Linked DNA regions of Homo sapiens. The protein of the gene in region 4 purifies or fractionates together with the protein of the main gene of each other region. This does not show direct contact. Each region holds a gene or a part of one and is shown on either strand. Other genes may lie near its edges.

Region 1 (5,556 bases), on a different chromosome or scaffold from region 4:
TTACCATAAGAATTAAATGTGGTAACATGTAAAAATGATGGCATGGGTGCCCAAGCATACAGCAGCCACTTAAGGGACAATTATTACTACCGCTAGAAAGGAGAATGTCTAGTCCATGGTATCTGTAGGTAGCACAGTTCTGGCTGTCACTTCATACATCCCCTCCCCAAAGACAAAGATTCCCCAGAAAGATACACACACACCTGCGGCTGGAAATCAACTGGTTCAAGGCCCCGGCACTCAAACTCCACTATTGTCTTGAAGTTCTCATTGTCTTCAGCCTAGAAAGGAAGTGTGTTGAGGAGGCAGGCCCAAATGAGCTCTCAGGATGACCCCATGGCCCCTCTCCTTCCTGCCAAATGGGCACTTACTGCCCCTGGAGGCCTAGTATGAGACCCAGGAAGAACTCATCCCCTTCTTAGAGGAAGCCTGCCTTGGGCACCTGCTCCCTATGAAGCTTTCTGTAGACAGCAGACATGGAGGCTGCAGAAGAGCGTGGATGCTGGGGTCAACCTGCCTGGATGTAAGGTAAGCTCTGCCTATCTTCCCCTCTGGGCCCAAGATTCCTAAACTGTCAAATAGAGCCGAGGAAACCTCTACAATTTTACTGTCAGATTTTGAAATGCATATAAAGTGCCCAGCACAGTGCTCAATAAATAGTAAATAAAATTATCAACACCAAAAATATGAACAAGAATGTTAAGCTCCAAAGTCTCTAGATCATCCAAACAGACCCAGTACACTTAACCATAGCCTTTTGCTGACCATCTGCCATGCAGTAAGGGCAGAGGGCTGTCTTATAGCCTTTGAAATGGTTATGTATGTGGAGGGGGCACCTCTTGGGGGGCAGGTGGCCAGGAAATTCATGCCTACCTGACCTATGGGCTTAGGGACCACAAGTGCCATGCCCTACATTCAGTCTCATCCTGTCATTCACTGTAAAGTAATTTCCTGCACACTGACCACATCTCTGGCACTGGTAAGGCACTTCTCTGTTAGGGCCCTAGTTCGATTCTTGTTTTTTGTATTTTCCACTAGATTATTATGTACGTGAAGGCGAGTCCTCATTTAATTTCTCTTTAACTTCAGGACAAAGCCAAGAATTTGGCACAACTCAAGATACTTTAAATAAATACCAAATAAGGAATAGGTGAATACATATAACTGGCTTTCTTTAAACAAACAGATCCAAAGCACACCCTCCCTCACCTTTGGGCTAACTTGTTAACACTGATGATATAAAGGATGGGATGCACCAAACGACTACCCCACCCATGGTTTCAGAGAAAGCTTGCTAGTCCCCTAAAATGAAGACAAGGCAAGTGCTCTCAGTGATGCAAACTGAACAGCTAGGTTGTGTCAGAGGTCCCCTGAGCTCTCACAGCCCAGCCCTCATAAGAAGGCACTGCAAGAGGCAATATACCAAGCACTCAGTGTACAGTGGATAAATGACTGAGTCAAAGAAGAACTAAGTTCATGAGTGAATGTCCTATGGCAGGTCACTCTGATGCAGGCATGACTCTAGAACCCAGACCTACTAACTCCAGTTAGGATTTAAGCCCACCATCCCTGCCACTACAGCAGCAAACTTACATTGTAAGGCTTGATGGTGCTGCTTAAAATCTCTGAAATAGAAAAGAGAACACAAAGTTGACTTGAGTCCATACCCTCGCCCCAGCCAGGTGCCCACATGTGGCCCTGAAAAAGATCACGCTGTACAGGTGTCGGCATCTTAGGCCTGACTCCACCCTCAGGTAACATGAGTCTACTTTCAGCCTGGTGCCAGGAAGCTGTGGGCCACCCTGGCAGAACTCAGTACGCACAGCCTGACCTACCGATGGAATTTTCTCTTGCACACAGCTTGCACTTCTGGACCATGGAAGCACTGCCACGGCCCCCCTTCAGTGCCACACTGTCCTGGCAAAAAGCAAACAGAACTTTCAGTCACATATGAATTAGATGTACAGTCCTGAGGAGATCGAGCCCACCATTTATTGTCCACTTAAAGAGACCAAGACCCAGAAAGGGTAACTTACTAGGACAAGACTCCTGGGAAGGCTTCCTGAGGAAAATAAAAAAAGGGCTTCCCCTTGATTTTGAACTCTGCCTCATACCTCAAAGATGCCTATTGAATCCAGTGCTGATCACACTGACACCTACCCTCCCAAACCACAAAAAGCAGGGAGCAAAGAACTGGAGAGATGAAGGCCAGTTTCCCCAAATCCCTGCCCAGAAGTGTATGTGTGTTTGTGAGTGTTTATGTTGGGGGTTGGGCGGGGAACAGTTACCATCAGCCGGATGTACTGCCACTTGTCCGAAATCTCACCACAGTTGCCACATTTCATCTTTGGGGAAAAAGAATGTTAGTAAAGCAGCTGGCTCTGCTGCACAGACACCAAGGAAAGGGTAAGAACAGTGGGAGGTGGGCAGGCTCATGATCTACCTTCTTGATGGCAATCTCACTTCATCCCTAACACCTGCCCCAACAAGGACAAAACTAGAACTATCTCTGGGCAAAGGATAGGTAAGGCTGTTTCCTATGCCGGCGTGCCCACCCTCCTCTATGAAGTGCTCAGTGTGGCCGGGGATTCAAGGCACCTGTGGTGCAGAAATGGTTTCAGCGGAGGTGAGGGGGGGGAATATGGAGAGATTTGTTAGAAGATACAAAATTACAGCTATATGGGAGGAATAAGTTCTAGTGTTCTATAGCACTGTAGGATGACTATAGCTGACAATAATATATAGTTTCAAATAGCTAGGATATTAAATGCTCCCAACACAAAGAAATGATACACGTTTGAGGTGAATATGCTAACTACCTTGATCTGATCACAATACATTACATTTATCGGAACATCACTATATACCCCATAAATATGTACAATTCTGTGTCAATTAAGAAAAAAAAAGAGAAATGGCCTCAGCAGGCCCCCGACCCACTCTGCTTGGTTAGCTTTATGTTCCCACAGGCCCTGTATGTCACTGGTATAAGCACTTATCACTCTATTGTTACTCTATTTTTCTGTCTCCTTCACTCGATTCCGCTTCTTCAAGCCAAAGAACAGATTCTCCCAAGTAAGCCCTGGTATTCAGGCTTCAAAATCCTGGGAAACAAAAGTAGTCCGGAGGCAGCTTCCCGAAAAACAGGGCTTTTGAGAGGTACAGAAGGATGCTGGGATTTTTGACCAGGAGTAAAACAGAGCAGAAGCTCTGGGATCTGGAAGAGTGAAGAGCCTCGAACTGCTGGGGAAGGGGAGGCCTCTGTAGACCATGCCACTAGGGTACCAGCTTTACCAGTGTGGGAGGGCTAAGGAAGGGTGGATTACGCACAAAATTAAACTATTTCACAATAAAGAAAACCAAATCAATAAACGAAAGGCGAACTATTCACCTTATTAAATAATCACAAGCGTCCCTTCAAGTAGCATTTCGTTTAGTGTCCATTTACAGACCACGAAATATTTAACACAGGGAAGAACTACAAAATGAAGCTTTCCAAGACTGCCAATTAGAGATAAACCAATACACTTTAATAGAAAGCAAACGTAAAATTCTAACTAGGAAAACCCCGAACACTTAATGTGCCTGGTTAAATATTTTCTCATACTGCCGGAGAGAAGGCTCCGGTTCAGCACTGAGATCAGGACGGGCCTCCTCTCCCCGGGCCCCGCCCCGGCCGCACCTTCAGGTACCACCGGAAGTCCTCGCCCACGGGCCGGAGGTTGGTGATGTTCTCCAGCGTGGCTTTGAGTTGCAGCGCGATTTTCTGAGGGGGAGGGCCAGAGCGACTGCGTCAGCCGTGCCTGCGCAGCCCCACGCCTGCCCGACCCTCCCGCATTCCCAGCCGTGGGTGCCACAGGGAGACACTCCTTCTGCCTCCTGCTCCTTCAGCGCGCACCCACTCGCTTCATCTCCTCCTGGCGCGAGCTGTTGCCTCCCAGACCCTCGCCACCTCCCCTCCGTGTCCCCGCGGCGGGCGGCCTCCCCTCACCCCCATGGTAGCCCTCTCCGCCCGGTGCTGGCTGCGGCCCTTGCCGTTGCTTTCCGGCGCGTCGTAAAAGGCGGGTGCCGTCTGCGCACCCTCAGTAGGGCGGGGCCGGGGCCGGGCCGCGGGGCAGGGACTTCTGCGCGCCGCTGCTCGCCTGGCCCACTGGGCTTTTCGCATCTGGGGATCTGGGGCCAGTGGAGGTCAGCCAGGTCCGCGAGCAACCTGTGCTCAGGCCAGCGGAAGCCTGACTCCAGGATTCGGTGGTGCCACAGACAGTTACTGAACGCCAATTTTGTGCCTGCTTTAAGCGAACAGGACAGTTCCTGACCCTCAGTTCTTTCCAGGCTCTTCACTACTCTGCCTGCCCTGGAACTTCTCAGATCACGTCAGCTCCCTCTGCCCAGGGGAAAAGCTACAAAAGGAAGAGTTCCAAGACTGCCAAATAAAGATAAACCAATACGCTTTAAAAAGTAGAATGTATTGGTTTATCAGATTTGGGGATGATGCCTTTCTTCAAACTGCCCTTTCCTGTTTCACCCAAGAGACCTGGTTTCTAGGCCCTTCTCCAGAGTTTGCCCTGTGTCCACATCCTTCTCACTGTGGTCCTTGCGACTGGACATTCCCCTTCAGCTGGCTCTTTTTTGGGAGCCCACCTGGCTTATCCTTCTCTCATAACGTTTATTGAACTTTATTTTACCTGGCCTCCTGTCCAGGCTACATCTGAGACCATGCAGGAGCTGTGGAGATTAACGGTAAAAGGAACAGCACATTCAAGACTCTTCTAGGAGGTGGGGCAAGATAGCCAAATAGAACCCTCCAGTGATCCTCCTCCTCCTCTTCCCTGGCAGGAACACCAAACTGAACAACTATCCACACAAGAAAGCACCTTCATGAGAACCAAAACTCAGGTAGCAATCACAGTAGCTGGTTGTAACGTCACATCAAGATATAAGGCAATGGCTGGGTGCGGTGGCTCACACCTGTAATCCCAGTGCTTTGGGAGGCTGAGGCGGGCAGACCACCTGAGGTCAGGAGTTTGAGACCTAGCTGGCCAACATAGTGAAACCCTGTCTCTACTAAAAATACAAAAATCAGCCGAGTATGGCAGTGCACACCTGTAGTCCCAGCTACTCCGGAGGCTAAGGCAGGAGAATTGTTTGAACCCGGGAGGTGGAGGTTGTAGTGAGCTGAGATCATGCCATTGCACTCTAGCCTGGGTGACAGAGTGAGACTCTATCTCATAAAAGAAGAAAAAAAAAGGAACAAGGCAATGAAGAGGGTAGGAAAGACAGTCTTGAATTGCTACCACCACCCCTCCCTCATCCTCTGGCAGCACCTGGCTGCCTGGCATAGAGAGAGAATCTGTGTGCTTATGGGACTTTGCATTGGAACTGAGTTTTGCCCTGTCACAGTGGAAAGCAACTCAGGGCAGAATTCAGCTAGTGCCCACAGAGGAAGCACTTAGAGAAACCCTAGCCAGAGGGGAATCATCCATCCCAGTGGTCAGGTTCTGGCGAGCCCCACCACCACTGGCTAAAGTGCTTCAGGGTCCTAAATAAATTCGAAAG
Region 2 (6,125 bases), on a different chromosome or scaffold from region 4:
AAACATCTAATAGAAATATTTAATTGTTGCTCTTCCCAACTCTATAATTCAAAGGTGGGGCTATCTAATTTAGTACAACTAAGAGCAAGAAAAGAAATCAGTTAAATATGAAACCTTAACTTGGACTTTAGTGAGTCTTTCACCATTCATGTGGTGGTACAATAATGTGAACAATCATTGCTTTTCCTGATACTGATTTAAAAATACTTCTTTGATCTTACAATAAAAACATTTTGAATTATTCTTTTGTGTTTATCTAAAATCAGTGGTATGCACTGAAGACCCATCACATGGTCCACAAATTCCAAATGTTTGAAAACACTACTTTCTCTACTACACTACTTCCCCTTCAAAGGAAGCTATCATTTCTTCCTGTGCATGTTAGAGAAAAACAGAGAACCAAGGACATTTTGTTTGCCCTTATTATTAATCTTCTCATATTAGAAAAGCACTTCATTATCTGCATTTATGTTGCCACATTTTCAAAAACATTGGTCTGATTTCAGTATGAATAGCACTTATAAAAAACAATATATATAATAATTATTTCCAATTTTTCCTGAATTCCCTCTGCCCCCAAAGACATTCTTTCCTTATGACCTTCCCAGAACCCAAGCTGCCTTCCTATACCTCTTGGTTACAGTCAAGGGTTATAAAAAAATGTTTAACAACTGGCATGGTATAAACACCAAACCAAGAGATTGACACCAATTTATAACTGTATGGCTGTAATGGAACAGGCTCACTAAATATCAGCCTTAGTTATACTGCTGCTAAAGAAGCAGCCTTAGAATGCTTCTTGTAAGCAGTCTGCTATACTTTTTTTCCATGCTAGGCCTGTTCTCAAAGATCTTTGGTTATTTCTTACCTGCCACTTCACAGAAAAGGGATAGCAGGGTTCATGAAAGAAACCACATAAATTGGATTCCAAAGATGAGTTTAACGTCACATCTTATTAAATATTTAATTTCTCTACTTTTATTCCTTAAAAGGAAGAATTAAGGAGAAGTATTAGAACATACTACTGCTTTCTTTCTCTTACACCGTCTCCAGATAATTAAGCTAAGTTAGTTTTTTTTTTAAAAGTCAGCTTTTTATTAGAGCTTTGTTATTCAATTATATCCACACAGGTATGCAAGTTCTTTCTCCTTTCTATCAAACAGACAGTTAATACACAGGCAAATGGATAAATTTGGGGATATATTAAGGATACTGTAAACTGTTAGCAAAAGAAATAAATGTCTGACATTCAGAGAGGAAACAAGAGAAAGGGAATATAGAAATTCACACCCTAAAAAAAAGAGGTGGTTCATTTTAAAATGAACTTATAAAGTTATATATAATAACATCAACTATATCTGTGTTGTTTTTAAAGATATTCTTACCCAATTTTGGAAAAACTATTAGGTATTCAGCATTGCACTGAGGACATGCCACTCTGGCTGTACTGTTTCCTCTTTGCTTTTCATCCACCCAGCGTTGTAGACAGGCCTGGTGAACCCATTTTGTAGATCCTCTGCACCTGCATGGTCTCACCCATTCAGCTGTTCTATCATCTTCATCAGTAGCAAAACAAACCCAGCAACTTCTGTAAATTAAAAGAGAAAAGGATGACATTTATATCTTTAGGACTCCAGCCTCCTCTATACTGCAGCTCTTACTTAATGGGATGAGCCTGCTATGTTATATTACAGAATCTCTGTCCTATATTAAAAGACTAAGGAGACAAAACAACCAATACATTCCCACTAGAGCAGTTTCTACTTTTTCTGTTTTTCCTTGTCTTCCTCTACAGAACTTATGTTTTCTGAACTTTGTTTTTATGTAATCTCCTCTATCTTTTCAGTAATTCTTCACCTTCTCTAATGAACCAGAGTGCAAGGAGACAAACCTCAAGTTGTTTTTGTTATAAGACCTAATAATTCTTTGAGGAATAGTAAGCACAGTAATATATTAAATTCAGTGTTCTCCCCAGTTCACCACCACCAATCCCTTGAACTTGGAAAAACAAAGTATTACACGAGTGATTTCACATACAGTCTCATTCCATTTTTCAGCTGAGGAAAAAAAAACCCATTTTTCTTTCCGGTAAAGTATAAACATGAGAGAAAACAATATTACATTTTCAAAAAAGCACAAAGGAGATAAATATATCAAGATTTTTTTTTTTAGAATAGCAATATGATAAATTTGGGCGTGTATGCTTGAAATCTGAAATCTAGAAGTATCAAGTCTGGGGTGCTTATATTAATAAAAATAAAATTCTATTGAGATCGGTAATTTTAAAACATTTTCCCACTTTGCTTTTAAGGGTACTTCATGAATTGTAATTTTTTCTTGTGGAATTAGGTTGTAATTCCTCAGTTTTTCTCCCAATTAACACAAGTTTTGACATCGATTTCCATCAGGGCAAATACAGTTCAATTCAATGAGACCCTTCGCTCCTCCCCTCCATTAGAACTTGTACAAGTGGAAACAACTGCTAATTAAAGCATGTTACCTACTGTGCACTTTTTAATTAATTGGATAAGTGGCTTCTGTCAGAACAACTAGCTTAACTATGCTCAGTGGGAAAGACTATATACTCAGGTATTATAGATGGGTGAGGTTCTCCAGTCCTTGTGGAACAACATGAATTTCAATTGTGTGCTCCAATTACAATTTTTCAATTAGAACAGAAAAAAAGTTGAACTGAATCCAGGGCATCAATATCCAAAATAGTTGTTTTATTCAGCTTTCAAATTCAGTCAGGTTTCATAAGATCTAAGTAAAATTAGAACGTAGGTAGCATTTGTTTAGCATTCTGACCCTTTTGACCCACTTTAGCTAAGCTGTCTGGGCCTTCACATTGTCTTATGGTTGTCCAAAAATACTTTGTTCTTTTTTAAAAAATTTTATCGTCAAATAGACATAGCATAAAATCTACCATTTTAGCCATTTTTTAGGTGTATAATTCAGTGGCAGTAAGTATATTCATACTGTTGTGCAACCACCAAGACTACCCATAGTAGGACTGGGTTCTAACCTATGATTTTTGCATAAAATTTCAATTGGTAAGTATACTAGCACACAGGCTGGTTAAGATGTTGTTAGTATATATTTTTCCCCACAACTGAGGTAATTTTGTGGACATATTTGTATACATCTAGGAAATGGAATGTATCATTTTAGCAACAAAATACTGGCAGAATATTTAGAGACTCTTTAGTCTCATACTTTCTTAACACAAACGTAAATAAGAATAGCTACATCAGCATAATTAATCAGTATTATGGTGAATCACATTTTAAATTAATCCAATTTCAGTCATCAGAAAAATAAAATACAATGTTAGGACTAGGTTGAACCAACTGAAATAGTCTACATTAATCTGTTTCTGACTTACAGAAAAGATAGGTCAAATTTCATATTTTGATCTAATGAGAATACTTGTGTAGCTATTATATTCCTTATAAATTCTAGATAAGGTTTATTTTTCCCAAACATTTTATTATGAAAAATTTCAAACTTTCCAAAAAAAGTTAAAAACTGTTCAGTGACTACCCATATACCCAACATTTAGATTCTATAATTCTTATTCTGCTATATTTGCTTTCTCACACATCCATTCATTATTCTTATTTTTTGCTGCATTTCAAAGTTGCAGGCATCAGTATATTTCAGTCCTAAATACTTGTACAGATTTACTTTTTAGAACTGACATTTAAAGCATGCACTTGGCCGGGTGCCGTGGCTTAAGCCTGTAATCCCAGCACTTTGGGAGGCTGAAGCGGGCGGATCACAAGGTCAGGAGATTGAGACCATCCTGGCTAACACGGTGAAACCCTGTCTCTACTAAAAATACAAAAAAATTAGTTGGGCATGGTGGCGGGTGTCTGCAGTCCCAGCTACTCAGGAGGCTGAGACAGGAGAATGGCGTGAACCCGGGAGGCGGAGCTTGCAGTGAGCCAAGATCGCGCCACTGCACTCCAGCCTGGGCAACAGAGCAAGACTCCGTCTCAAAAAAAAAAAAAAACAAAAAACAAACAACGCACGCACTTATGCACTTTCAGTTTTTTTTCTAATTAATTTCACAACTATGGTAAATAAGATAGCTGAATGATGATTCAGAGTGCGTACTTATCAGGAGTTAGGCTTTCAGTTGAAATAGCAGTATTAGAGGCATGTGAACCAGAGCAACTCCGTCTTGATTGAATAGGAGCTGGGTAAAATGAGGCTGAAACCTACTGGGCTGCATTCCCAGATGGTTAAGGCATTCTAAGTCACAAGATGATATATGAGGTCAGCACAAAATACAGGTCATAAAGATACTGCTGATAAAACAGGTTGCAGTAAAGCCAGCTAAAACCCACCATAACCAAGATGCTCACGAGTGACCCCTGGTCGTCCTCACTGCTACACTCCCACCAGCACCATGACAGTTTACAAATGCCACGGCAACGTCACGAAGTTACCCTATATGATCTAGAAAGGGGAAGCATAGGCTGGGCGCGGTGGCTCATGCCTATAATCCCAGCACTTTGGGAGGCTGAGGAGGGCGGATTATGAGGTCAGGAGATCGAGACCATCCTGGCTAATATGGTGAAACTCCGTCTCTACTAAAAATACAAAAAAATTAGCCAGGCGTGGTGGCAGGTGCCTGTAGTCCCAGCTACTCGGGAGGCTGAGGCAGGAGAATGGTGTGAACCCAGGAGGCAGAGCTTGCAGTAAGCTGAGATCGTGCCACTGCACTCCAGCCTGGGTGACAGAGTGAGACTCCATCTCAAAAAAAAAAAAAAGGGGGGAAGCATAAATAATCCTCTCCTTGTTTAGCATATCATCAAGAAATAACCATAAAAATGGGCAACCAGCAGCCCAAAGTCTTGCTCTGTTGCCCAGGCTGGAGTGCAGTGGTGGTCTCGGCTCACTGCAACCTCCGCCTCCCGGTTCAAGCGATTCTCATGCCTCCGCCTCCCAAGTAGTAGGATTACAGGGTGCCCGCCACCATGCCCAGCTAGTTTTTGTATTTTTAGTAGAGATAGGGTTTCACCATGCTGGCTAGGCTGGTCTTGAACTCCTTACCTCAAGTGATCTGCCCACCTCAGGCTCCCAAATGCTGGGATTACAGGCATGACCCACTGCGCCTGGCCACACACAGCTAATTAAAAAAAAATTTTTTTTTTAGAGACAGGATCTCCTTATGTTGCCTAGACCAGTCTCAAACTCCTGGGCTCAAGCAATTCTCCTGCCTTGGATTCCCAAAGTTTTGGGCGTGAGCCACTGTGCCTGGCCAAATATGTTAAGTTCTAAAGAATTTATTAACTGATTTGCTATCTTACTAGTTGTTTAAATTTAATCTACCTAGTATGGAAAGAATAGCAGTCTATGAAATGAGGACTGGGCAAAGGGGAAATTAAAGCATGTAAAAATGGTCACACAAATGTCTTTAGGCCGATATCAGCATATAAGAGTGTGACTAGTCTTAAGGGCTAAAAAAAAGGAGGGGAGGGCACGTGCGTGCATGCACGCGCACACACACACACACACACACACACACACACACACACAGATGTTTTCTTTCCTTATTTTATGAGATGGGTCTGGCTCTGTTGTCCAGGCTAGACTCCAACTGAAATCCTGGGCTCAGGTGATCCTCCTGCCTCAGTGTCCTGATTACCTAGGACTGCAGGCATATAGTCTAGCTTCCTGCCCCCTCCCCTGCCCTTTTTTGAGACTGAGTCTCACTCTGCCACCTAGGCTGGAGTGCAGTGGTGCAATCTTGACTCACTGCAACCTCTGCCTCCTGGGTTCAAGTGATTCTCCTGCCTCAGCCTCCCTAGTAACTGGGACTACAGGCATCCACCACCACGCCTGGCTCATTTTTGTATTTTTAGTAGAGATGGGGTTTCACCACCTTGGCCAGGCTCGTCTTAAACTCCTGACCTCAAGTAATCCACCTGCCTCGGCCTCCCAAAGTGCTGAGATTACAGTCATGAGCCACTGCGCCTGCCCATCCGACTGACCAGGAACATCACCTGGGAAGGTCTTATAATTATGCTTTCCCTTTTTGCTTCTCCATACCCTACCCCTCCCACTCTATGTAATTAATCTACTTCAACGATTTATTCCCCAATTCTCTACCCCCT
Region 3 (6,125 bases), on a different chromosome or scaffold from region 4:
ATATTTGCTGTATAAATAAATGGTACAATGTCTGTGTCATTCACGTTAACACTTAGCATATGTTATCTTGGTGTGTGTGTGTTTTTTTTTTAATTTTATAAAGACAGGGTCTCACTATGTTGCCCAGGCTGGTCTCGAACTCCTGGGTTCAAGTGATCCCCCTGCCTTGGCCTCCCAAAGTGTTGGGATTAAAGGCATGACACCACTGGGCCCAGCCCTTATCTTATTTTTAAGCCTATTGCTTCAACTAGACAATAAGCTCTCTTTAAAGACACAAACCAGGCACGGTGGCTCACACCTATAATCACAGCACTGCGGGAGGCCAAGGCAGGTGGAGCAGTTGAGCCCAGAAGCTCGTGACCAGCCTGGGCAACATGGTGAAACGCTGTCTCTACTAAAATTACAAAAAATAAAATTAGCCAGGTATGGTAGTGTGCACCTGTAGTCCCAGCTACTCAGGAGGCTGAGGTAGAAGGATTGCTTGAGCCCGGGAGGCAGAGGACGCAGTGAGCCAAAATCGCACCACTGCACTCCAGCCTGGACGACAGAGTGAGACCCTGTCTCAAAAATTATTTATAAATAAATAAAATAAAGACAGAAACCATTATTAATATATCCCTGTATTCTTGGTAACTAAAAGAATGTTCTCATAATAGTAACTTAGCAAATGTTAAAGCTCAGACCACCACCACAATGAAAGAATGGAGCAGATAGTCTCTAATTCTCTCAGTATTCTAAGACCATTCAGATATTGAAATAGAAACACAGAGCAATTATATAGGTAGAAAAATAGCCTTTATTTTTTTCCCTCAAAGAAAATATAGAGGTAGGGCAAGAAAAACACATGAAATGTGGCATAAAACACAGTAATTTTCAACATTTAATTAACATAAATAAGTTGGGTTTTAAAAATTTAATTTTAGAACTAGGCAGCTATTTCTTTCATACTAATAATATACTTCAAATATCTCATTCTTTTATTATGCCTGGAAGTCTTCATCATTCTTTGGAAAGTTAAGAAATTGCTAAAAGTTGAACTACAGAACAGAGTGTTCAGACTTCATCCCATTATGAGGATAATAAAAGTAGGACTCTATCAGTGTTCTCAAACTATTAGGTATAAATCATTTTCCAACATAGTAAATCTGACAGGTAAACTACAGTTCTGCAAAGTCTAATAACAAGTTATGTTATTAAGTACAGTGTTTTGAGAATCCTGAGTCAAATAAATGAGAACCAATCTATCAAAAGGGAAGCAATGCTCAACAGAGAAACCTCCCACTTACCCTGTGATTTTATATCCATGGTCACATATGGAAAACTCCCAAGGACAGCCATAACCTCTTCATATTTTTCATCTTCAAGGAAGTGCAGTAGAGTGTGACGATCTGATTCTTTTAAACTCACCAAATCCTGGATAGTTTTAATTTTATACTGAATAAAAAAAAAAAAGAAAATACATAATTCCCTAACTCACAAAGCTTTTCATAAAAAGAAAATTACTCACATGTTAACCACAACAAAATCCAGCAACTTTTAGAAAAGTGTTGATTAATGTGCATTTCAAAGTACAAAATAACGATATGGCATTTCATGACCTTTTTCTCCAAGAAAATTTAAATTAAGAATTTTTAAATTATAAAGTTAATACAGGCTTATTTTTTTAAATTAGAAAAAACAAAGTTGGAGGGAAAAAATAAGAATCTTGACTCAACCAAGAACTTTGTCAATTGATGTCCTCAGTTTATTTTCAATTTTAATAACAAAAACCTTTAATTAGCAATTAATAGGTTTACTATTAACAAACCTTTAATAATAAACGTTTACTTTTACCTAATAAAAGTAAAAATAAACCTCAATAAAGACGCACCTTCAAAGTTTTACTATGCAATATTCTCATTTTTGTTATTCTTAAAATATAGCTATTACTACAGTAATATCCATCTTGGCAAAATGGTTACTTAGGAGCGTGTTCTTTAATTTTCCAGGTGTTTGGTGCTAGTTATTTTTCACTTTCAAAGACACAGATTAGATCATGAGGCATGTAAAATCTCTGCTTTTAGATTCTGAAGTTTTTAATTATGACTTAACATACAATCAAATTTATAAGGGGAACATGAGTACTTAAAAGGACAGAGAACTCTGATACTAATTTCCAACATGCATTTATTAATTCTACATTAATATACTATCAAATCCAATGTCTATTCTCTGCTAGTTTTATCTATCATATACAAAATAATGTTTAAAATCTCCTACTAGAATTGTAACTTCAGTTTCTTATATTTCCTCAAGTTTTTCATTTACACAAATTTTTGTTATATCTTAAGATTCATTATCATGTTTATACTATAGATTATATATTCTAAATAAGAACTGTCTTTATTTGATTTATTAAATGTTTTTGTTGTTCATGCTTAACCAGTAAACAATTGCCCAACCTTAAGCCAAGAATAAAATGACTGTAAAGTAGACAGTACATTTATTTTTGGTAACATAATATAAGGAACTAACTGTTGACTTTTTAAATGCAACAACCCCCAAAATAATAAAACTACTTACAGTAGTAAAATACTATAAAACACAGCTACCTAGTCAAGAAAATGTTAACAGAACCACCTGAGAGAAAGTTTTAGAGTATTTAAGACATTCTAAATCTAAAAAATGCATAGTAACCATTTCCAGAAAACTTTTATTCATGTTACCTTTAAGTGACAGGACAAACTGCTGAAAACTGACTTTAAAGTAGCAAAGAATTACCTTCTTATGATTAGAAACCCGTCTAAGATTGTCCTCTTCAATATGAGGGAGCTGCAGAAGGGGAGACTTAAATTGCTGAAGTCCCTGAACGGCCATCTGAGAAAGCTTCATGCAGTTTTCTAGGGATGCCAAAGTTGGAGCACGAAACTCCCTTTCTTAGAAAGAACAGGAAAAAAAGAAACAGGGCTGGACTTTTTACATGTTCAGGAGTATACAATTCATCACAAAAACAAAATTCACACTAAATCCATAACACCTCAAATTTGAGGATCATAGTAAGATTTTCCTTTAAAAGTTACCAGAGAAGACACTAAAAATATACAAACTCGATCTAATGAACATTTTCCAGCAACAACCATTGATTTAAAAGAAAAATTATTTGCCTCACCTCAAATAATAGTAAATTATCAGACATTATCAGTATCACCAACATATGACACCATGACAAGAACCAACATCACCCGTAACAACAAACCATAACCACTATCCTTTTTTAAGGGCATTCCTTTCCATTACTGACCAGAAATTCCCTCATTCTTTTCCTTCCATACCAAAAAAAAAAAAATGGCTAGGTGCCTGTAGGCATGTGGCTCATGACTGTAATCCCAGGGCTTTGGGAAGCTGAAGTGGGAGGATTGCTTAAAGCCAGGAGTTGGAAACCAGACCAGTCTGGGCGACAAAGTGAGATCCCACCTCTACACAAAATGTAAAGTTAGCTCCGTGCTGTGGTATGCACCTGTAGTTCCAGCTACTCGGAGAGCTAAGGTAGAAGGACTGCTTGAGCCCAGGAGTTTGAGGCTGCAGTGAGCTATGATTACCCTACTGGACTCCAGCCCTGGTAGATGCTGTCTATAATTAATTAATAAAAATTACATGACATATGAATCACTTTTATATCAGTTAAAGATTTCAAATTCACTGTTAGAAAAAATGACCTAACTCAAAAATTATTCAAAGAAAGAGAAATTTTAAATCTTTGCAAACAATTGAACAATAAAATAATTAAATTATCATGCCTGTAATCACAGCACTTTGGGAGGCTGAGGCAGGTGGATCACAAGGTCAGGAGTTTGAGACCAGCCTGACCAACCTGATGAAACCCCGTCTCTACTAAAAATACAAAAATTAGCCGGGCGTGGTGGCATGCGCCTGTAATGCCAGCTACTCAGGAGGCTGAGGCAGGAGAATCACTTGACCCTGGGAGGCGGAGGTTGCAGTGAGCCAAGATCGCGCCACTGCACTCCAGCCTAGGCGACAGAGTGAGACTCTGTCTCCAAAAAAAAAAAAAACAAGAATTAAAATCAAAAACACAGTGACCAGGGCTTTGGGAGGCTGAGGCAGGTGGATCACGAGGTCAGGAGATGGAGACCATCCTGGCCAACATGGTAAAACCCTGTCTCTACCAAAAATACAAAAATTAGCCAGGTGTGGTGGTACGCGCCTGTAATCCCAGCTGCTCAGGAGGCTGAGGCAGGAGAATCGCTTGAACCCAGGAGGCAGAGGTTGCAGAGAGCCAAGATTTTGTCACTGCACTCCAGCCTGGGCGACAAAGCAAGACTCCATCTCAAAAAAAAAAAAGAACAAAAAAAACCCAGTGAGCTGTGATATAGACTTTAAATAATAGAAAATATAGGAAAGAAATATGAAAAGACATGAGTAAAATTGAAGAAGCTCACTGAACTGGCCGACAGAAGTCTGAGTACCCATAAATCCTAAAATATGAAGTACAATCTGCATATGCTTGCAAGAAAAAGTATAACATAATTAACTATATTTCCTCCTCACCTTCACGGTTCCGGGCCATTACTATTAGTTGGCAGATTACATTAACCATTTCTTGAAGTAGGGCAGGACACTTTTTTAGCATGAATTGCTGATCTGCAAAACAATAAAAAACCTGAAACAGATCATTTTAATTTTACAGTTAAAGCATCTTTATCACTGTGGCCCAAAACTAATATTAAAGTTATGCCACAAATATTTCACATGATCTCAGAATTTTACAGATTGAATGGAAGAGTTTCTCCTCAGTATCACTATGTCAAAAATCAGCCATAAAACCCTAGCTCAGATTAGACGTTTCAAAGACAAATTTTTAATATCATAATGTTAGGCTTAATAAACCAACTCCCAGCTGGGCATGGTGGCTCACGCCTATAATCCCAGCACTTTGGGAGGCTGAGGCAGGCAGATCAACTAAATATGTCAAAATAAATATGTCAGCTAAATACAGGGGGAGAGATAAGAGACGTAGAAGAGAAGAAGAGGGCAACTTACAGAAAGAGAAAGACTCTTTCATTTATACTGCATATAATAGTTAACTATTAAGACCACATTAACCTATGGATTTGGTACTCAACAATGATTTGTTTCCTGCTTCTTACAGGTAAGTAAAAATGGAGATGCTTATGTATCTGTACAGAACATTAGCAACAGAATTACTAGTTAATTGAGTATTTCAAAGCAACTCCAATGATATTGCCTAAATAGTGCTCCTTCATTCCACCATAAGCATCCTGTCCTATCACCAATTACTAAGCGTCACATGGCCTTGTTTTCGGAAGCATTTAACTGCATTACTGCCTTAAAGGAGGTGGGGGATGGTAGGATATCATTCAAAAAGAACATTTATTTCCTAGAGGTAGTAACTGTCTTTTAAAACTTTAACTGAAATAATGTCGGTGAAAAAGAGATAATTAATGACATCCCTGGAAACACTGTTGCCTCCATCAACTACTTTTCTTTTAAGCAGAATACATGGCTTCAAGTACTTATGAAGCTTTAAATAACTATAAAACAGACATTATTGGTAACCACTGTCGGAGGAAGCTTGTAGATGGGGAGGTGAGAGGTGTTGGTTGTTGTGAAATCCATTTTGCTCCCTCCAAAAACTTACAAAGTCCTTTAAAAAAATTATTAGGAACTTTTGTATGATCTGCAATTAACTAAACATTTCTTATACAGAGCATTCTCTCACCTTGAAACACTAAATTTTAACACTTGCCAAAACGTCTGACTTACTTAGATCTTCAAACCATTTGTGAAGTAATTATGTAGCATATACATTTCTTTTTTAAAAAGTCCTTGAGCAATTATTTGGCCAAAAAAGAACAGCAACAAAACACACCGCACCACCATGCTATGGTTTGGGTCTGTGTCCCCACCCAAATCTCATGTTGAATGGTAATCCCCAATGCTGGAGGTGGGGCCTGGTGGAAGGTGATTGGATCAGGGGGGTGGAGTTCTCCCTTTGGTGCTGTTCTCGAGATACACTTCTCACAAGACCTGGTTGTTTAAAAACGTGTGGCATCTCCCCCATCTCTCTCTTCCTCCTGCTCTGGCCATGTGAAGACACTTGCTCTGCC
Region 4 (6,125 bases):
TTAGCTGTTTTCCCTGCAGATTAGGGTGGGCAGTGCAGTGGGGTGACATGGTCAGTGGTGAGAAAGGAAAGGTCCTGACTATGGCCTGTAGGCCACACCTCCTTCCTTCTTGGTCAGTGGCCCTGCCGACTCCCAGATTTGCTGTGGAGTCTTACTCAGTTCTGTGCCTCTCAAAGTGAGGTACCTCTGCCTTTCCTGGGAGTTCCTGGGGCTCTGTTGGGTCTACAGATGAAGCTTCAGGAGAAACTTGTGGCATTGCCCTGAGTTGTCAGTTGCATCTGCAGATTTTTGGGGGCATGGTTATGTGAACATCAAAATGCTGTATTACAGGGTAGAATGCAAAAATGCAGGGTGTTTTAGAGATGCGGCAGGAGTTCAGACAAGGGTTGTGTGCCGGGCTGGTCCTTGGGTAAGGTTTTCCTCCTCCAGGGTGAGGGGATCAGAGAGAGTACCTGGAGAGGGTCTACCCTGGGTCCTAAGAGCATCTGGAGGTGATACCTTGGGAGGGGACAGGATTGCATGGTGACAGCCCCCTCACGTGGAAGATATCAGCATTGAGGCCCCCAAGTGGACATCCTCCAGCCCTTTATTGCTAAAGGATTCCTGGCTGGAGCCTGCTGGTCTGGCTTGACACCTGGTCCTCCCCCAAGGCTGGCTGTGGGTTGGACAGCTGGGGTAGGGTTGGAGCTGGAGGCCAAATGCTGACTGCAGCAGGAAGCACAGCCGAGCTGTCAGGTGAGGCCAGGCACAGCAGAGAGGCAGGGAGCCGTGTCACCCTTTGGGCACTCTGCTAGGACAGGCAGGCCCCTGTGTACCTGTGGTTCTGGAACACCTTGCTGTCTGAAGGCAGATGTCTAAGGCTGTGCTGAGGAGCAGTGCAACGCTTGAGTCCTTTGTTTTAGAAGGAGACCCTGGGGGCCCATGAAGCAGTCCCATTGCAGTTCGGCTCACTTTATCTGGCTTCTTTGCCTGCTGTCTGCATAAGGTTACCTGGGAAAATGGAAAACAGCAGAATTCCAGACCCAGGTGGAGGGATCAGGTGCAGAGGAGCTGCTGCAAGTTTAATGAGCTGGGTGCTAATTGCTGCCTCCAAGGCCCCCCTCAGTGATGGCCTGGGCTTGCTCCCTGCCCAGCAGCCACCTCCTTGGACCTGCCTTGAAGGCTCCTGGAGTTCCTGGTGAAGCCAGGCTGCAGGCTGTGGGTGGAGGAGGGAGTTGGGTGCAAGAGACCCTGCTGGTGAGGTGCAGCTGGGAGGCGGGGCGTCAAGGCTGCACATCTGAGCATCAGAGAAGCCACGTTCTGGGGTGGAAAACGATGCCCCCTCCCCTTCCTGGCCTTATGGCATTTCAGCGGTGGGTGGCTGGGCTGTGGGACTTGCTCATGTGCAAGAGGAGAAACGGGTCTAGGAAGATGAAGATAGCGTGCCAGTGGCACAGGGCTGGTGAGGAAGTTAGAGCTGGAACTGCTGCTCAGTCTTACCTGGTTCCCATCTCTGTTCTGAGAGAGGCACCCCTTGTCCCAACCAAAATCCAAGCCACATTTTCTGAGTCAGAGGACTTCTTGTGTGGCCGGCCCTGTGAATGGTGGCAAGTGACCCTTACCGAAGGCTGAGTCTTGGGGGAGCACTGGCCTGAATCCTTGAGGGACATTCACTCTTTAATCCTTCTTTAATCCTAACCTCCCTTTGAGGTGGATATTGATGTAGCTGGGGTCAGAGGGCCAGCTCCTCTGAGCCCTGAAACGGGGAGAGGATGCTGTGAGATCCACCTGCCACCTTGCTGCCACCTTGCTGTGGGGCCTGGGGCAAGCAAGGCACTGCACCTCTCTGCGTCTCCTCACCTGTCTCAGACGATAGAGGGCAGGCTTCTGGGTGCTGTGAGAACTGTGTGCTGAGCATCCGCAGAGACTCTCGTCCTTTCCAGTCATCTCCCAAGGCCGCCTTCCCAGCGGGCTCCGCCTGCCTCCCTGCTGACTCCTGCCCGTGTCTCTTGTTTCAAGCTTGCGCGATCTCTGGCCTCTTCAACTGCATCACCATCCACCCTCTGAACATTGCGGCCGGCGTGTGGATGATGTGAGTAATGCATGGCCGTCCCACCCCGGGGGTCTTGCTGGTCGGGAATCTGCTGGGCACCTCCCGGGACAGAGGAGTGGCAGGGGCCGTGGGAGTGGGCATCCTTGTGGTTGCCATGGCTACTGGCTCCAGCCTGGGTGCCTCGGGCATGTGAGTTTCTGGCCACAGCATGCGGCTTCTTCCCCTTCATACCCCCACCATGTTTAGTTTCCTAATGAGAGGTCAAGGCCCAGGGAATGCCCACCCCGGCCTTCATCCGGTGCAGGGGCAAGGCCATCAGTGCTCCAGACATTTCTGGAGCATCCACTGAGACTGCAGATGCCAAGTCCACTATACTGGGGCCCTCGCCCTCTGGGAGCTCCCAGGACTGGGGTGGGGAAGGCTGTTCATTGGGGCTGGCTGAGGACTGGGTTGAATGGTCTGCTGGGAGAGGGCACTCGAGCTCGGAGCTGTGCCAAAGATAGATGGGAGAGGCGGGTCGGAGTTGTCACGGGAACCCGTGGTCAGAACACCCTCATGTGCGTTCCATGCCCACCTCCTGCCAGGGTTTCGCCATCCCATCGGAAGGGAAGGCGGGGTGAGGGCAGGCCCGTGTGGCTTGGGGCACGTGAGAAGTGGCGGTGCACCAGGAATTGATGAGTGTCCTCATGGGGCTTGGTGCCTTGAGGGGTACAGAGCTAGACGAGATTCAGGTCCCGTCCCCAGTGACCTATGGCCAGTGGAGAGCCTCGGGGGCCTGCTGTGGTGGGGTCCTCAGTGCTTGTGCTGGCCAGTGGTGGATAGGGAAGGGGGATGGACAGAGAGGCGCCCAGCCCAGCTTCAGGGGGTGGAGTCGGAGCCTGGCCGAGTTTGAAGTGGAAGGGCTGGCCCAGCACAGAGTGAGCCCGTGCTTGGAGGCCTGGTGTGTGGGAGGCTCGGGGCGGGTGCAGTGGTTAAGAGTTGTGAAGAGAGTGCCTGCCCCGGGCTTGGGGTGGCTCTTAGGTGTCCTGAGCCTGCATTTCTGTTACACAGGCATAATGATGGCACTTTTCTCCCAGGCCTGGGGACAGAAGGGCCTGGCTCAGTGTCTGCTAACTGATTGTTATCCATGCATAGAGAATACCAAGACCACAGCAGACACCTTCCGTCACCAGTGGCTTAGCTGTTCCCACCCCAAACATAGGGCTGGATGCAAGGACTTGCTAAAGTTCTTCCTCCCCAGCGTGGGCTTCCCCTGGGTGTCCCCGGGCCTGGGGCCGGTGGCATCAGGTGTGTGGGCAGCTCTCCGTGACTGTTTTGGGACTGCGTGGCTCCAGCTCTCTGCCTCCCTGGTGGGGCAGCCTTCCTGGTGCTGGTGCCACTGACGGCTTTTGGTGGCCATGGCGATAATACTAACAGCAGACAGAGGACACAGCTGCCAGTGCTCCATCTGTGGATGAACCTGCCGCAGCGTTGTAGCAGTGCCATGATGTGGGGTCCCCTTTCCTCCATGTCACACAGGAGGAGGATAAAGGGAAGCAGAAGCCCAGGGGCTTCCCTCTAGGAGTGTTCAGTTCAGCTGGGGAGATGGGTGTGCAGGAGCAGCTGGGGAGTGCTGGAGTCTTCAGCAGAGGCTCTCCGAGGGGTACGAGCAGGTGCCCTGGAGCAGCCGGGCGGCTTCCCAGAGGAGGAGGGATGAGGGCAGGAGGGTGAGGGAGGTGGCATTCCTTATGGCACTGGCACTGGGGGCCGCCCTCATCCTCCTGGGATTGTCAGTCGCTGCTCTTCTCCTGCCCTGGTCCCTGCAGCATGAATGCCTTCATCTTGTTGCTGTGTGAGGCGCCCTTCTGCTGCCAGTTCATCGAGTTTGCAAACACAGTGGCGGAGAAGGTGGACCGGCTGCGCTCCTGGCAGAAGGCTGTCTTCTACTGCGGGTGAGGGGTTGCTGGGCAGGGTCCCGTGACACAGTTCCCCAAAACCCCACTGACAAAATAGGACCCAAAAGTCAGGTGAGGGTGGGCAGTGTATTCAGTTCCTCTCTGTGGAAGTGTAAACTGGGATTGCCTTTGTGCACAGTGATTTGCTCATAGCTGCCAAAACGTGCCCCAGTGGTTCTGCGCCCAGGAACTCAGCTGTCGCTGTGCCGTAGTCACTGGAAGGTTCAGAGGTATATGAGCATGTGTGGCAGCATCCGTGCAGTGGAGAGAAAGTGGGAAGCGTCTGGAATTTTGGTCCGTCCACTGGGAGTTGTTAACCAGATGATAGTAGGTCTGTAGGACATGTTTCTCTGCAGCCTTTCCGAAGAGTGGGTTCATCTAGATGTCCTGACGTGAAGGGGGAGAAGCAGGTTGCAGAGCAGAAAATGTGGTTGCCCTCTAAATACACTTGTTAAAAATTTTCCCATTTCTAACAATGAAATCAATATGTAATACTTCTCCTCTCAGTCATAAGAAGGAACTAATTTCAGGATAAGCTTAATACACGGAAACTCCTAGAATAATGCCTCTAGTGCATAGGAGGCTGGTGGCAGCTGTATTCATTATTGTCTAGGTTATCTTTAGAAAGAAGTCTAGATGCAAGCTTGCTTCCCCTTCAGAGAGGCCCGGTAGTTTTGATGGTAAGAGCACAAGCCACATGCTTAGTTCTGGAGCCATCTTGTGCCATATCTAAATCACGAAGAACACAGGATCACAAAGCTCTTATCTACACGCAGTGTCATGTCCTTAGGGGTTCAAAAAACTGTATTTTAAAAATGCTAGACATCATAGAAATTCATTCACAATAATTTGGAATATAGAACAATGTTACTCGAAGCCCGCTGCCTGCTAATCTTCTGATGTGTGTGCTTCCTGTCTGCAGGCATTTTTTAAAAGCCTGCTTTTAACACAGTTATAACCATTATGAATAAGTTTGTATCCTGCCTTTTTTCACTTAGAGTAATGATATAAGCATTTGAACATCACCACAGACTTTATAACATTCTTTCAATACAGGAATATTCATTCAGCTGGATGTATCATGCTGTTCTTAATTTCTTAACTGGTGTAAATCGAGGTGTGATAAACATGTGTCTGCTAAAACTTTTTCTGTGTTTATGATGATTTCCTTAATATCTATTTTCAGGTGTGGAATTACTGGGTCAAAGATTCTGATCATTAAAAATATTTTAAGATGCGTGGCTACGTTGCTTTCCAAAGAGGTCCCTTGAGTCTCTCCCCCGCCCCCACCCCAGCCCAGGGCTGCACACCACTTCACATTCGCATTTATCTATTTGTTATCTAAGAGGGAAAAATATTTTCCCACGTGTTTCCATTGCATTTTCTGATATGAAAATTTTCGAGTTTACTTTTTAACCTGTGGGAACCTCAGTGTTCTGCTTAGCAAGTTCAGTGTGTTTTCTGTATTAAAGATTTCATGATCCTTGGTTGTATTTCCTGCAACTATTTTTCCAGGCTCTTGTTTGCCTTTAATTTTGTTTTTGTCAGAAGGTTCCCCGCCGTGGTCTTTTTCTTTGTAATTTCTATTATTATTTTATCATTTTGAAATTTTTTAACGACAGAAAAATCTCACAACCACATGTCTACAAGAATGGAAACTGAGGTAGAATGCAATTGGCCACGAGTCTTGTCCTCCTGCACAGGCAGCCTCCTCTAGGGAGGCGACAGGACAGAGCGCTGGCCTCCAGGCTGCAGGTATCCTCCTGGCCCAGTTAGCCCAGGAATTGCTGCTGGCCTGGAAATTCCAGCCAGGATGGAGAATCAGCCCCGGGGACGCTTAAGCCCCAGTGGACCCTGCCACCAGGTGACGCCAAACTGCAGCAAGGTCTGGGCCGACCCCGCAGACCCCGCAGCCTGCAGCCCTCCCATGATGAGACCCTGTGTTCCATGTGGTTGAATTCCAGGGACCTTACTTGTGGCGATGTGGCTGGTGTTACTCTATAACTCAGAGCATTTATTTAGTGCCTGTGGTGGTCAGCATTGTGTAGGTAACATGACTGACCTCGGACAAGCTTTGATCCCCTCTCCGCGGTGGAGATTCCGAGTAACTTGCCCGCGAAGCTAGTAGGTCCTGGATGGGAAGCCAGATTCTCTGTCAC
Region 5 (6,125 bases), on a different chromosome or scaffold from region 4:
TTCTTTATCTTGCCCTGTATTCATCGAGATTATTAGATCAATGCATCAGTATCTTTTTAAAGATATTGGTGATATTCTTACTGTTTCTGGTTACCTGCTGAAAATTACAATCTTGCTTTTATTGGCCTAGTATAGTTGCTCCTTAGTATCTGCTGGAAATTGGTTTCAGAACCCCGTGCAGATACCACAATCCACAGGCAGCTCAAATTCCTTATATAACATGCCATCATGTTTGCATACGGCCTACACACATCCTCCCACGTATTTTAAATAATCTCTAGATTGCTTATGGTACCTAATACAATGTAGATGCTATGTAAATATTGTTATACTGTCATGGCTTTTTAAAAATTTCTATTATTTTTTATAGTCGTGTTTTTAAAAATATACATGTATTTTTAATCCTTGGTTGAGTGAATCTGTGGCTATGAAGGGCCGACTATATTCATAGTTCATTTGTTGTTTGTTGAAGATAATTCCAGTTTCTAAATTTTCTAAGTCTGTGTCTGCTAGCTTATGATATTTTTTTCTTGTGTGCCTTGAGTACCAGTTGTATTTAAAAAATTATAGGAATATATGAGTCCTAGAATAATAGTATCTTTTTTAAGAAGGTACATTTTTCTAGGAAAGGTCTCTAGGAGTGCTTTCAGTCCCAAGTCACTATTCATGTTCAAGAGTTGGGATTCCTTCTGTTATACACATGACATTAAGGAAGACTTTAAGATCATGAATTCTATTTTCCTTCAATTTCCTCTTATCCTAATGATGTTGTCCTTAAACTCTGAACATAAATTGGGTAGTTTATCTGAGTCCCCAGCTTTGTTAGGCAATGTGCTTTTATTTTTATTTTTGATTTTGATTTTTTGTGTTTATTTTTATTTTAAATGAGGTCTCGCTGTATTGCACACAATCATCCTGAATTCCTGGGCTCAAGCTATCCTCCTGCCTTGGCCTGTCAAAGGATAGGATTACAGGCATGAGCCACCACACCTGGCCTTGTGCTTTGATTTTTTTACCATAGACCGGCACATCTTCCATTAGCTCAGCCTTTTTTCTCAGCCTTTTCTTCTAGACAGGAAAATGTCCTCAGAACAAAAGTTACTTGGTGTATGGTTTGTTTCTGGTTTACCTTCACATGGAATTTGGTAAGTAATTTCACATTACTTTATTTCATTCATTATTTAGTTTTTTTGTTGGCGTCAGCAGAAAGGTTGGTCCTGTCTGCCACTACCATAAATAAAACCCTAATTGTCTTTCTTTTTTACTTCTGAGATTTGATTTTAATATATTTATGCTTTGAGCCAAAATTTTTTTAACTTAACTCATATATTTAAAAATTTTAATTTTTAATTACTATGGATACATAAAATGGGGAGTATGTGATATTTGATATAAGCATACAATGTGTAATGATCAAATCAGGTAATTGGGATATCCATTACCTCAAGTATTTGTCATTTCTTTGTGTTAGGGACATTTCATTTCCACTCATTTAATTGTTCTAAAACATACACTAAATTATTGTTAGCTGTAATTACTATATTGTGCTACTGAACACTATATTTTATTCCTTCTATCTAACTATATTTTTCTACCCATTAACCATCTCCTCTTGATTCTCCTCTCAACACTACCCTTCCCAGCCTCTGCTAACATCTTTTTACTCACTATCTCTATGACTTCAATTTTTTTGAAGCTTCCACATATGGGTGAGAACATGTGATACTTGTCTTTCTATGCCTGGCTTATTTCCCTTATAATGTCAGTCACATCCATATTGTTGAAAATGACAGGATTTCATTTTTTTTTTATGGCTGAATAACATTCCATTGTGTATATGTACCACATTTCTTTATCCATCCATTGATTGACAGTTAGGTTGATTCCATATCCTGGCTATTGTGTATAGTGCTGCAGTTAACATGGGAGTACAGATACCTTTTATATACTGATTTCCTTTCTCTTGGGTATATACACAGTAGTGGGATTGCTGGATTATAGTTCTATTTGTTGTGTTTTTAGGAAGCTCCATACTGTTCTCTGTTGTGACTGTGCCAGTTTACATTTCCACCAACAGTGTACAAGGGTTCCCCTTTCTCCACATTCTCACCAGCATCTGATATTGACTGCCTTTTCGATAAAAGCCATTTTAACTGGAGTGAGTTGATACCTCATTATAGTTTTGATTTGTATTTCTCTGATTATTAATAATGTGGAACATTTTTTTCATATGCCTGTTTGCCATTTGTATGTCTTTTTGAGAAATGTCTCCTCAGATCTTTTGCCCATTTTAAAATCAGATTTTTTTTTCCTATTGAGTCGTTTGAGATTCTTATATATTCTGGTTATTAATCCTTTGTCAGATATTAGTTTGAAATATTTTCTCCCATTCTACATGTTATATCTTCATTTTATTGTTTTCATTGCTGTGCAGAAGCTTTTTGGCTTGGAGAGATCTCATTTGTTGTTATTTTATTTTATTTTCTTGCTTTAGTTGCTTGTGTTTTTGAGGTCTTATTTAAGAAGTCTTTGCCTAGACCAATGTCCTGGAGTTTTTGCCTAATGGTTTCCTTGATTAGTTTCATAGATGTAAGTCTTTAATGCATTTTTCTTTGATTTTTGTATATGGCAAGAGTTGGGGTCTACTTTTGTTGTTCTGAATGTGGGCATCCAGTTTTCCCAACACCATTTATTGAAGAGACTGTCCTTTCCCAATGAGTGTTTTTGGCACCTTAGTAAAAAACTAATTGGCTTTAAATACACAGATTAATTTCTGGACTCTCTGTTCTGTTGTTCTACATGTCTGTTTTTATGCCACTATCGTGCTATTTTGGTTACTATAGCGTTGTAGTATATTTTGAGGTTTGGTAGTGTGGTAAGTCTACCAGTTACCAGCTCTGTTCTTTTTGGTCAGGATTGTTTTGGCTATTTGGGGTCTTTTGTGCTTCCATACAATTTTAGGATTTTTTTTTTCTATTTCTGTGAAGAATGTCATTGCTCTTGATAGGGATGGCTTTGAATCTGTAGATTGCTGTGGGAAGTATTGTCATTTTAACAATACAATTTTTTTCAACCCATGAGCATGGGATGTCTTTTCATTTGTTTGTGTCCTCTTCAATTAATTTCATCAATGTTTGATAGTTTGCATTGTAGTTGGTTAAGTTTATTTCTAGATATTTAATATTATTTGTAGCTATTGTAAATGGGATCACCTTCTTGATTTCTTTTTCAGATAGGTTGTCACTGTTGGCATAGAGAAATTCTATGGATTTTTGTGTGTTGATTTTGTATTCTGCAATGTTACTGAATTTATTAGTTCTAATAGTCGTTTGTTGGAGTCTTTAGGTTAGTATAAGATCACATGAGCTGCAAACAATGATAATTTTACTTACTCCTTTCCAATTTAAATGCCCTTTATTTCATTCTCTTGTCTGTTTACTCTGGCTAGGACTTCTGTTACTAACTTGAGTAATAGTGGTGAAAGTGCCCATCCTTCTTCTAGATCCTAGAATAAAGGCTTTCAGTTTTTCCCCCATTCAGTCTGATACTAACTGTGGGTTTGTTGTGTATGGCTTTATCATGTTGAGGGATGATCCTTCTGTCCCCAGTTTGCTGAGAGTTTTTATGAAGGGATATTGAATTTTATCAAAAAAGATTTTTTTGGCATCTATTGAAATGACAATACACTTTGTGTCCTTCATTCTGTTGATACCATGTATCACACTGATTGATTTACATATGTTGAACCATCCTTACATCCCTGGGATGAATCCCACTTGATTATGATGATCTTTTTAATGTGCTGTTGAATTTGGTTTGCTGTGTTTTGTTGAAGATTTTTATATCTATTTTCATCAGAGATACTGGCCTGTAGTTTCTTTTTTGTTGTTGTTGTATCGTTGTCTGGTTTTGGTATCAGAATAAATCTGGGGCCAGGCATGGTAGCTCACGCCAGTAATCCCAGAACTTTGGGAGGCTGAGGCAGGCAGATCTCTTGAAGCCAGGAGTTTGAGACCAGCCTGGCCGACATGGTGAAACCCCATCTCTACAAAAAATACAAAAATTAGCTGGGCATGGTGGCTTATGCCTGTAATCCCAGCTAATCTGGAGGCTGAGGCAGGAGAATCGCTTGAACCCAGTAGGTGGAGGTTGCAGATCACCTGGGCAACAGAGTGAGACTCTGTCTCAAAAAAAAAAAAAAAAAAAAAAAGAATAAATCTGGCCTCATAAAATGAATTTGGAGATCCTCCTTGATTTTGGAGAATGATTTGAGTAGGATTGATGTTAGTTCTTCTTTAAATGTTTGGTAGAACTCAGTGAAGCCATGAAGTCCTGGCCTTTTCTGTGATGGGGGACTTTTTATTATTGTTTCTATCTTGAAACTTATTATGGGTCTATTTCGATTTTGGTTTTCTTAATGTTTCATTCTTCTTAGGCTGTATGTGCCTAGGAATTTATTCGTTTCTTCTAGGTTTTACAATTTATTGGCATGCAGTTGTTCAAATGGTCTCCAATGATCCTTTGAATTTTTGTGATATCAATTGTAATGTCTCCTTTTTTGTCTCTGATTTTATTTGGATCTTCTTTTTTTTCTTTTCTTAGTCTGGGTAAAGGTTCATTGATTTTGTCTGTCTTTCCAAACAACCCTTTTCATTTCATTGATCTTTTCTATTTTTTTGTCTCAATTTTATTTCTGTTTTTTATTATTTATTTTCTTGTTTTCTTTATTATTTCTCTTCTTAATTTGGGGCTTGGCATGCTCTTGCTTTTCTAGTTCTTTAAGATGCATTACTAGGTTGTTTATTTCTTGGTTTTCTACTTTTTGATTTGCACATTTATTGCTATAAACATTCCCTTTAGTGTTAGCTTTAACTGTATCTCATAAGTTTTAGTAGGTTGTGTTTCCATTTTCATTTGTTTCAAGACATTTTTTAATTTCCTTAATTACTTCATTGGTTGTTCAGGCACGTATTGTTTAATTCTTATATGTTTGTATAGTTTCCAAAGTTCCACTTGTTATTTATTTCTACTTTTATTCCATTGTGGTTAGAAAATATACTTTTTATCAGACTTGTTTTGCGGCCTAACATGATGGTGCTCTTTTTGGATTTCTGTTTGCATGCAATGTCTCTTTCCATCTTTTGGTCTATCTATGTTTTTATAAATGAAGTGGGTTTCTTATATGTAGCAGGTAGTAGGGCCTTGTTTTGTTTAGCCCTTCAGCTCTTCTGTGTCTTTTGATTGGAGAATTTAGGATCCATCCTTGAGAAATGTTCCATGTGCTAAGGAGAAGAATGTATTCTGCGGCTGTTGGATGACAGCTTCTGTAAATGTCTATTAGGTCCATTTAATCTATAGTGCAGATTAAATTCATTGTTTCTTTCTGTCTAGATGATCTGTCCAATGGTGAAAGTGGGCTGTTGAAGTCCCAAGTCATTACTGTATTGGGTTCTGTCTCCTTAACTCTAATACACTTGACTCTATATATCTAGATGCTTCTGTGTTGGATAGATATGTATTTATAATTTTTATGTCCTCTTGCTGAATTAAAACCTTTTGTATTATATGATAACCTTTTTTTCTTTCTTCATAGTTTTTATGTTGAAATCTATTTTATCTAAAAATAGATACAAAGCTACTTGGGCTCTTTTTGGGTTTCTGTTTGGTGCAGTATCTTTTTCCGTCTTTTTGTTGTTAGTCTATGTTTTTATAGTGAAGAATTTAGTCCATTCACATTCAGTATTATTATTGATAGGTAAGGACTTACTACTGCCTTTTTATTGTTGTTCTGGTTATTTTCTAGGGCTTTTCCCCCATTTTTTTCCTTGTTTTCCTTTGTGATAATTATTTTTTGGTAGTATGTTTTAATTTCTTGCTTTTTATTTTTTTGTGCACCTATTAGAGGTTTTTGTTTTGTGGTTACTATGAGGTTAGCAAATAACAATTTATAGCCAATTATTTGCAACTGATGACAACTCTGATTGCAAAGAAAAGAAAAAATACACGCACAGAAAAAACTAAAAACCTGTACACTTCTACTCCATCCCTTCACTTTTTGACTTTTTGTCTCTATATATTTTTATATTTTAAGTTTTGGAGTAGTTTTTTTTTGATAGTGTTATATA

What was found.
Region 1: the proteins of CACFD1 (region 4) and CZIB purify together in Homo sapiens (affinity purification with mass spectrometry; one large-scale study listed by BioGRID and IntAct). This does not show direct contact.
Region 2: the proteins of CACFD1 (region 4) and MARCHF5 purify together in Homo sapiens (affinity purification with mass spectrometry; one large-scale study listed by BioGRID and IntAct). This does not show direct contact.
Region 3: the proteins of CACFD1 (region 4) and SEC63 purify together in Homo sapiens (affinity purification with mass spectrometry; one large-scale study listed by BioGRID and IntAct). This does not show direct contact.
Region 5: the proteins of CACFD1 (region 4) and ORC4 purify together in Homo sapiens (affinity purification with mass spectrometry; one large-scale study listed by BioGRID and IntAct). This does not show direct contact.

What each region holds. Positions count from the first base shown.
Region 1 is NC_000001.11:53,216,579-53,222,134, forward strand, and holds the start of CZIB (CXXC motif containing zinc binding protein), read right to left. Parts: upstream 4,057-5,556; 5' UTR 3,998-4,056; coding exon 3,992-3,997; exon of another isoform or gene 3,782-3,991; intron 3,767-3,781; coding exon 3,683-3,766; exon of another isoform or gene 3,223-3,682; intron 2,346-3,222; coding exon 2,289-2,345; intron 1,918-2,288; coding exon 1,836-1,917; intron 1,626-1,835; coding exon 1,594-1,625; intron 282-1,593; coding exon 204-281; intron 1-203.
Region 2 is NC_000010.11:92,306,598-92,312,722, reverse strand, and holds part of MARCHF5 (E3 ubiquitin-protein ligase MARCHF5), read right to left. Parts: intron 1,589-6,125; coding exon 1,386-1,588; intron 1-1,385. UniProt on the Homo sapiens protein: Mitochondrial E3 ubiquitin-protein ligase that plays a crucial role in the control of mitochondrial morphology by acting as a positive regulator of mitochondrial fission and as an important regulator of immune response.
Region 3 is NC_000006.12:107,900,084-107,906,208, forward strand, and holds part of SEC63 (translocation protein SEC63 homolog), read right to left. Parts: intron 4,639-6,125; coding exon 4,546-4,638; intron 2,916-4,545; coding exon 2,761-2,915; intron 1,435-2,760; coding exon 1,287-1,434; intron 1-1,286. UniProt on the Homo sapiens protein: Mediates cotranslational and post-translational transport of certain precursor polypeptides across endoplasmic reticulum (ER). Proposed to play an auxiliary role in recognition of precursors with short and apolar signal peptides.
Region 4 is NC_000009.12:133,461,485-133,467,609, forward strand, and holds part of CACFD1 (calcium channel flower homolog), read left to right. Parts: exon of another isoform or gene 1-698; coding exon of another isoform or gene 699-735; intron 736-1,998; coding exon 1,999-2,071; intron 2,072-3,837; coding exon 3,838-3,963; intron 3,964-4,752; exon of another isoform or gene 4,753-6,125. UniProt on the Homo sapiens protein: Transmembrane protein which mediates synaptic endocytosis and fitness-based cell culling.
Region 5 is NC_000002.12:148,008,934-148,015,058, reverse strand, and holds part of ORC4 (origin recognition complex subunit 4), read left to right. Parts: intron 1-6,125. UniProt on the Homo sapiens protein: Component of the origin recognition complex (ORC) that binds origins of replication. DNA-binding is ATP-dependent. The specific DNA sequences that define origins of replication have not been identified yet.